Linked DNA regions of Homo sapiens: all the other regions are linked to region 1. Evidence: fine-mapped expression QTL. A gene starts in region 1. Each other region holds a variant in brackets. All regions are shown on one strand. Distances are between the middles of the regions.

Evidence for each region. PIP is the estimated chance that this variant, and not a neighbour inherited with it, causes the effect.
Region 2: its variant is fine-mapped to the expression of PPP4R3B in whole blood (TOPMed, PIP above 0.99). The same link has a PIP of 0.9 or more in skeletal muscle.
Region 3: its variant is fine-mapped to the expression of PPP4R3B in whole blood (INTERVAL, PIP 0.92).

What each region holds. Positions count from the first base shown.
Region 1 is chr2:55,616,121-55,618,881 of GRCh38, forward strand. PPP4R3B (protein phosphatase 4 regulatory subunit 3B) reads right to left here and starts at 1,502. Exons shown (of 17, transcript NM_001122964.3): 1 at 1,024-1,502. The coding sequence starts at 1,165. PPP4R3B-DT (PPP4R3B divergent transcript) reads left to right here and starts at 1,810. Exons shown (of 3, transcript NR_186624.1): 1 at 1,810-2,262. RefSeq lists enhancers at 458-1,384, 1,385-2,309, 1,403-1,802, 1,823-1,872.
Region 2 is chr2:55,644,870-55,647,630 of GRCh38, forward strand. PNPT1 (polyribonucleotide nucleotidyltransferase 1) reads right to left here. Exons shown (of 28, transcript NM_033109.5): 19 at 2,478-2,584; 20 at 1,546-1,617; 21 at 1,390-1,453; 22 at 480-563. Among named protein-coding and RNA genes, the nearest start is that of PPP4R3B-DT, 28 kb to the left of the region's middle. The variant C/G (reference allele first, on the strand shown) is at 1,381.
Region 3 is chr2:55,461,768-55,464,528 of GRCh38, forward strand. No RefSeq gene overlaps it. Among named protein-coding and RNA genes, the nearest start is that of CCDC88A, 43 kb to the left of the region's middle. The variant A/G (reference allele first, on the strand shown) is at 1,320.

The DNA of each region.
Region 1 (2,761 bases):
TTTTAAGGTCTAAATGACCACTTCAAGCCATTCGTTTTAACAAAAGTTGTTTTATTGCATTCCCAGTTTAACAAATAATGCAAATTACAAAACAAAAACATCATGACAGGGATTAAATACTTAGTATAGAAATTACAGTGCTGCATTTATCCTTTCCTCATTAAGAACAAAAGAACACCTTCTGTAGAAGTGATGACTATTTAAAATAAAAGGGAACAAGCAAGAATACAAAATATGTCAAGACTAAACCTAAGATTATTTTTCTAACTGCCTATATCAGTTGTTCAAATCAAGTCCAGATTATACTATAAAAGGCATTTTAATTACGGCTCTACATTTTGTAATTTAAAATACTTCACATGACTACAATAAACCAAAGAACACAGCAGTTTACAACCTGCTTTGGTGTCCCAACTTGCTTAGATTGTAAGGCATTCACTTTCTCATAGCGCCTTCTACAAAGGCAGCCCGAAGAAATGCAGACTACAGATGTATGTGCTTGTGTGTCCATGTATCGTGGCAACAGTCAGCAATACAGCCAGGAAAACGTGCCTTTCGGTTTTCCCCAGCACCTGTCGACTGTGGCACCTGGGGCCCGTTGGTACAATTTTTTTTTTTTAAAAACACTCGGAAAGAAAAGTTTCCCTAAACCGTTTGTACTAGACGTATAATGGATAAGTAAATAAAGGGGGAGGAAGGTGTCAGCTCCTAGGGCGACATCAGTACCTAGTCTCTCACTACTTCCTCCCTTCTCTCTCACACTCTCCCCTCTTCAAAAGAGGAGGGACTGGAAAGGAAGGAGTCCAATCCTTAAGAGAGATGGGAGAAGGACAGAGAGTCTCGGTCTCCGAGGATAAGTCCAGTCAAAAGTACAGTACTTTGTTTTTGCCGTACACAAGAGCCAGTTCAGAACCAACGCGCTGTCCCGAAGGAGTAGCAACGGTAACGGGCCCAGGGCCCTAAACCCAAGCTGTGCCCCAACCAGAGGCACTATCCCCTATTCTACAGTTCCGATAACCTTACCGTCGGACTCTGCCCGAACCAGCAGCGACATCCCCTTGAGCTCCTCCACGTAAGTGGAGGAGACGTGCCCGGTGCCTCGGTCGTCCCATTGCCGGTCTTCGTTCAGGGTATAGACCTTCACTCGCCGCCGCGTATCCGACATGGTGGCTGCTGTCTCCACCGCTCTAGCCGCCGCCTCCTCGCTTACCTCGTCCGCGCTCCTCACTCTTAGGAGACGGTAAAGGCAGTAGTGGCGGTGGCGGCGGCGGCGGCTTCGGAGAGGCCCGAATTCACCATGGCTCCAAAGGTTCAGCCGCGAGAAGGGGTGACAAGAGCCACTGAGGCCTCTCCGCCCGGAGGCCCCGTTACCTCTCACTTCACCCGCGCATACACCCACTCTCCCGTCTCTTTGCCCCCCAGGGCTCGCTTGCTCTCCCGCCGCCGCGGTAACTACTACAGATCCGCCATCTTGTAACCCGACTCTCTCTGCCTTTCTCTTCCTCCTCCAGCAGGCTCGCACGGGCTGTCCTAGCAGGGGCTACGGCGGCCGACAAGTCCCATGAGCAGCACCTCCGCTTCTGCACGCGCTTCCCAGGCCGGAATGCTCGGCGCTCTCGCGAGGAGGGGTACCGACTGGGGCGGGAGTACTTCGGCGAGACTTCCTCCTCTTTCGGCCCGACTTCCTCCTCTTTCGGCCCCGCCTCTTGGCGCGGGGTCGCAATTGGGCGGGAGGTTCTCGCGATCTCCCCGTCCACGCCTGCGCCGCGAGAGGCCGCTAGGTGGAAGGGGACTTCGGTTCCGCACGTCGTCATGTTGTTGGATGGCACCAGTATGTGACGTTCCTAGGAACTTAGCTCTGAGGAAAAAACAAAGCAAACCGGGGAAGTACGTAGCCTTGAACCGGAGTAACCAGGGACAGAAAGGAAGGAAAAGGGTTTCATACCTTCACGGAACGACGCTCACTTCGTCCGCCTGAGGAGGAAAAATAAGTTTAAACCTTTCTGTGAAAAAGAACGTGGAGCCCTTTCTGCCGAATGGAAACCCGCTAAACCCCGTTATGGAGTCTGCTACAATTAAGCATCTAACCAGGAATTGTCTATGGACACAACTCTCCAGGCAATTCATGCAGAAAGTGTGTTGACGATTTCCTGTTTCTTGCAGAGCGCTTCACCGTTAAGGCTCTTAGTAGCTGGCGATTGTAAAGCACATTTTCCGCTTCATGAAAATACAGTGCTCTTCTTGTGTTTGTAACCTTGGAAAGTAAGTCTGCTATGATAAGTTTAGGGAAGTGGCGGGGAGCTACTTTCCTAACATATCTGTGATTGTTTTGATACTTCTCAGTTTCTCGCGGGCATTTCCTGCGTTCTCTATAGGGCTCTCTTGCACTGAATAAGGAAAGGAGGAATTCTCTCTGCATTGAGGCTATTATCGCACATTGTGCGGTGGATATAGTCACGCGCTGGGTCGTAGTAGCGTGTCGTTTATTTCAGTCCAGCTCACTCTTGGTAGAATCCCTTTATTCGTTTTGTTGTTTTTGATAGTCTCTCTCTGCTTCCCAGGCTAGAGTGCAATGGCGCTATCTCGACTCACTGTAGCCTCCGCCTTGAGGGCTCAAGCGATCCTCTCACCTCAGCCTCCCGAGTAGCTGGGACCGTAGACGCCTGCTCCCCATCCCCGCTATATTCGTTCTTTAATACAGTCTCTCAGCTTGTTCAGCTGCCACTTCTGTGCAGCTCATTAGCCTGATCGGTGAAAACTA
Region 2 (2,761 bases), 29 kb after region 1:
ACTGAAAACTGTTAAAGAATATTCCCTAAAATTTAAAGCATTTTAACTACAAAAGTATTTAAAATATTTTCGTTTTGTGCACTGGGTAAAAACAATTTAAAAGCAGTAATATTCATTCATATATTAATGTTTATCTTACCATGATCACTAAAATTTTTTTTTTTTTTTTTTTGAGACGGAGTCTCACTTTGTCGCCCAGGCTGGAGTGCAGTGGCGCGATCTCGGCTCACTGCAAGCTCCGCCTCCCGGGTTCATGCCATTCTCCTGCCTCAGCCTCCCGAGTAGCTGGGACTACAGGCGCCCGCCACCACGCCCGGCTAATTTTTTGTATTTTTTAGTAGAGACAGGGTTTCACCGTGTTAGCCAGGATGGTCTCGATCTCCTGACCTTGTGATCCGCTCGCCTCGGCCTCCCAAAGTGCTGGGATTACAGGCGTGAGCCACCGCGCCCAGCCGATCACTAAAATTTTAATGTATTACCTACAACAGGTCCATTTTCTTTTCTAGATGCTCGAGGTTTTGAAATAGTTTTGTTCATGATCTGTAATATCTCCTTTTTTGCCACTAGAAGAGAAAAACACAAAAATTATAACTACATAAAACAAATATGATCTGAAATACTGTACTCTTAGTTTTCACGGTATACAATCTAAACCCTGTAGCTTAATAATTGAAGCTTTCCACATCCCTATTACCTTGAAAATTCACTCATATTCTCTTCTCCAAAAATCCCATCTTAAATAGAGTTGTTTAATTTGTAAAAATTGAAATTTCACTGGTAACCCACTTTGGCGTGTATTCATGTGTCCCAAAAACTTAGTTGTGCTTCTTCTTTTTTTAAAATAGATATGGGATCTCACTACGTTGCCCAGGCTGGTCTTGAACTCCTGGGGCTCAAGCAATCTTCCTGCCTTGGCCTCCCAAAGTGCTAGGATGAGCCACCATGCCATGCCTGGCTACTTAGTACTTCTTTTTTTTTGAGACATTTTCCCTCTGTCACCCAGGCTGGCGCGCAATGGCATGATCTCGGCTCACTGTAACCTCTGCCTCCTGGGCTCAAGCGATTCTCTTGTCTCAGCCTCCTGAGTAGCTGGGATTACAGGTATGCACCACCATGCCCGGCTAATTTTTGTACTTTTAGTAGAGACAGGGTTTCACCATGTTGGCCAGGCTGGTCTCGAACTCCTGACCTGAAGTGATCTGCCTGCCTCGGCCTCTCAAAGTGCTGGGATTACAGACATGAGCCACCACACCTGGCCAGTACTTCTTGATCTAAGTTATATGAAATTCCACTTTTTAAAGCAATATTTTATAATAAGCCTAATGAGAACTATAGTTCCCATTAGCAAAGTGGAAAAGAATGAAGGGAGAATCAAGCACA[C/G]TAGCTCACCTGAAGCTTGTTGAATAGCCTCCATCACAATTTTTATTGGTATTCCAGGTAATTTAATATCAGCCTAATATGGAAAAGTCAAACAATTATATAAATATTGACTCATGGCATTATTTAAATGTTACAAAAATGAAACAAAATGGGTTTTAAAAATACCTGTAATGCAGTTATTCCTTTATTAGTGCCAGCTATTTTGAAGTCCATGTCACCATTGTAATCTTCAATTCCCTTCAGGAATTTAAAAAGTTATGACATAGTTTTAAACAAAAACAAAAGTCAACATATTCACTGTAGAAACATTTCAAAAAACAGCTTTAGAAGTAAACCATATCCTAAGTCCAAACACAAAGCAATGTTTTCTACATTAACTACCACTTCCAATTTGTGACTTTTTAAGCTACAATTATTTTCACCAGAAACATCATTTTATTTTTAGATCATTCCTTTCCCTCATAAATGCCTGAGAATGAATTTATGCTCATCCTAAAGTGAGTCATTATGAATACTTACACTGTGTAAGTATTACTGCAATACTTAAGGGTAAGTATTACTATTTTTTTAAAGTAATCATTTTATTTTATTTTATTTTACTTATTTTGAGACACAGTCTTGCTCTGTTGCCCAGGATGGAGTGCAGTGGCACGATCTTGGCTCACTGCAACCTCTGCCTCCCGGGTTCAAGCAATTCTGCCTCAGCCTGCCAAGTAGATGGGATTACAGGTGTGTGCCACCATGCCCAGGCTAATTTTTGTATTTTTAGTAGAGATGGAGTTTTGCCACATTAGCCAGACTGGTCTGGAACTCCTGACTTCCCAAAGTGCTGGGATTACAGGCATGAGTCACTGTGCCTGGCCTATTACTATTAATATAATATCTATTTTAAATTCATATCCTATAAGATACAAGGTGAACATGCAGAGGAGGAAGGGAAGAACAAGTACCTGTTCTTCAAATACTAGCATTCTTCTAAGCATACGCTAGGTGCAAAGTACATATAGTCTTCACCATTATTTGTTTTTATCTTTTAATTTTTATTTATTTATTTTTAGTCTTCATTATTAAATATTTGAAACCGAGAATATACTTGCCAAAATATCTGTCAGCAAACGATAATCTTCTATTTCACCCTTCTCAGGATCGGTTTTGGTGACCAATCCTATTGCTACGCCTGCAACAGCAGATGAAATTGGAACCCCTATAATTGGGAAAAAGAACAACTGTGGGTAATGTGTACATGAGCCTAAAACAAATATTTATCTATCAATTTTTTTTTTTTTTTGAGAGGGAGTCTCGGTCTGTTGCCCAGACTGGAGTGCAGTGGCATGATCTTGGCTCACTGTAGCCTCTGCTTCCTGGGTTCAAGCAATCCTCC
Region 3 (2,761 bases), 150 kb before region 1:
TGGTATTCACAGGCACACATTCGTCCAGTAACCTTTTTAAAAAATACTTTCTTCTCTAACCTTAACACAGAACTAGATGGGCCCCTTTCATACACTCTTAGGTTGCATGAGAGAGGGAGGGAAAGATAAGGAATAGATGAAGCAAGTCTAATGAACCCTTGAAAATTGTTCATCTTGATGATAAGTATGTAGGAGTGAATCATGCTATTTACTTAACTTTTGTGTATATTTGAAAATTTCTACGGTAAAATAATTTTCAACTAAACTTTTTCAGAAGTGGGGACATTATTACCAGCTTACAGAAATAGAAAGGATTATAATGATACTATGAAAAATTGTACTCCAACACATTGGATAACTTTAACTTGTAGCTTGAAAGTAGGGTAAATAGGGGTCCATTCCAAGATGGCCAAATAGGAACAGCTCTGGTCTGCAGCTCCCAGCGTGATTGACGCAGAAGATGGGTGATTTCTACATTTCCAACTGAGGTACCTGGTTCATCTCATTGGGACTGGTTGGACAGTGGGTGCAGCCCACAGAGAGCGAGTTGAAGCAGGGCAGGGCATCGCCTCACCCGGGAAGTGCCAGGGATCAGGGGATTTCCCTTTCCTAGCTAAGGAAAGCCATGACAGACTGTACCTGGAAAATCGGGACTTTGCCACCCAAATACTGTGCTTTTCCACCAGTCTTGGCAAACGGCACACCAGGAAATTATATCCCGCGCATGGCTCAGTGGGTCCCATGCCCACAGAGCCTTGCTCACTGCTAGCACAGCAGTCTGAGATCAAACTGTGAGGCGGCAGCCTGGCTCGGGGAGGGGCGTCCACCATTGCTGAGGTTTGAGTAGGGAAACAAAGTGGACAGGAAGCTTAAACTGGGTGGAGCTCACCGCAGCTCAACGAGGCCTGCCTGTCTTTGTAGACTCCACCTCTGGGGTCAAGGCATAGCTGAAAAAAAGGCAGCAGAAACTTCTGCAGACTTAAACATCCCTGTCTGACAGCTCTGAAGATGGCACTGTTTCTCTCAGCATGGTATTTGAGCTCTGAGAACGGACAGACTGCCTCCTCAAGTGGGTACCTGACCTCCGTGTAGCCTAACTGGGAGACACCTCCCAGTAGCAGCCAACTGACACCTCATACAGCCGGGTGTCCCTCTGAGACGAAGCTTCTAGAGGAAGGATCAGACAGCAATGTATTTGCTGTTCTGCAGCCTCCGCTGGTGATACCCAGGCAAAAAGGGTCTGGAGTGGACCTCCAGCAAACTCCAACAGACCTGCAGCTGAGGGACCTGACTGTTAGAAGGAAAACTAACAAACAGAA[A/G]GGAATAGCATCAACATCAACCAAAGACATCCACACCAAAACCCCATCTGTAGTCACCATCATCAAAGACCAAAGGTAGATAAAACCACAAAGATGGGGAGAAACCAGAGCAGAAAAGCTGAAAATTCTAAAAACCAGAGCGCCTCTTCTCCTCCAAAGGATCGCAATTCCTTGCCAGCAACGGAACAAAGCGGGACAGAGAATGACTTTGTTAAGTTGACAGAAGTAGGCTTCAGAAGGTCAGTAATAACAAACTTCTCCGAGCTAAAAGAGGATGTTCGAACCCATTGCAAGGAAGCTAAAAACCTGGAAAAAAGATCAGACGAATGGCTAACTAGAATAAACAGCATGGAGAAGACCTTAAATGACCTGATGGAGCTGAAAACCATGGCATAAGAACTACGTGACGCATGCACAAGCTTCAGTAGCCAATTCGATCAAGTGGAAGAAAGGGTATCAGTGATTGAAGATCAAATTAATGAAGTGAAGCAAGAAGAGAAGTTTAGAGAAAAAAGCAAAAATAAATGAACAAAGCCTCCAAGAAATATGGGACTATGTGAAAAGACCAAATCTGCGTTTGATTGGTGTACCTGAAAGTGACAGGGAGAATGGAACCAAGTTGGAAAACACTCTTCAGGATATTGTCCAGGAGAACTTCCCCAGCCTACAAGGCAGGCCAACATTCAAATTCACGAAATACAGAGAACACCACAAAGATACTCCTCGAGAACAGCAACCTCAGGACACATAATTGTCAGATTCGCCAAGGTTGAAATGAAGGAAAAAATGTCAAGGGCAGCCAGAGAGAAAGGTCGGGTTACCCACAAAGGGAAGCCCATCAGACTAACAGCGGATCTCTCGGCAGAAACTCTACAAGCCAGAAGAGAGTGGAGTCCAACGTTCAACAATCTCAAAGAAAAGAATTTTCAACTCAGAATTTCATATCCAGCCAAACTAAGCTTCATAAGTGAAGGAGAAATAAAATCCTTTACAGACAAGCAAATGCTGAGAGATTTTGTCACCACCAGGCCTGCCCTACAAGAGCTCCTGAAGGAAGCACTAAACATGGAAAGGAAAATTGGTACCAGCCTCTGCAAAAACATGCCAAATTATAAAGACCATCAATGCTAGGAAGAAACTGCATCAACGAACGAGCAAAATAACCAGCTAACGTCATAATGACAGGATCAAATTCACACATAACAATGTTAACCTTAAATGTAAATGGGCTAAATGCCCCAATTAAAAGACACAGACTGGCAAATTGGATAAAGAATCAAGACCCATCACCGTGCTGTATTCAGGAGACCCATCTCATGTGCAGAGACACACATAGACTCAAAATAAAGGGATGGAGGAAGATCTACCAAGCAAATGGAAAGCAAAAAAAAAAGCAAGGGTTGCAATCCTAGTCTCTGATGAAACAGACTTGAAACCAACAA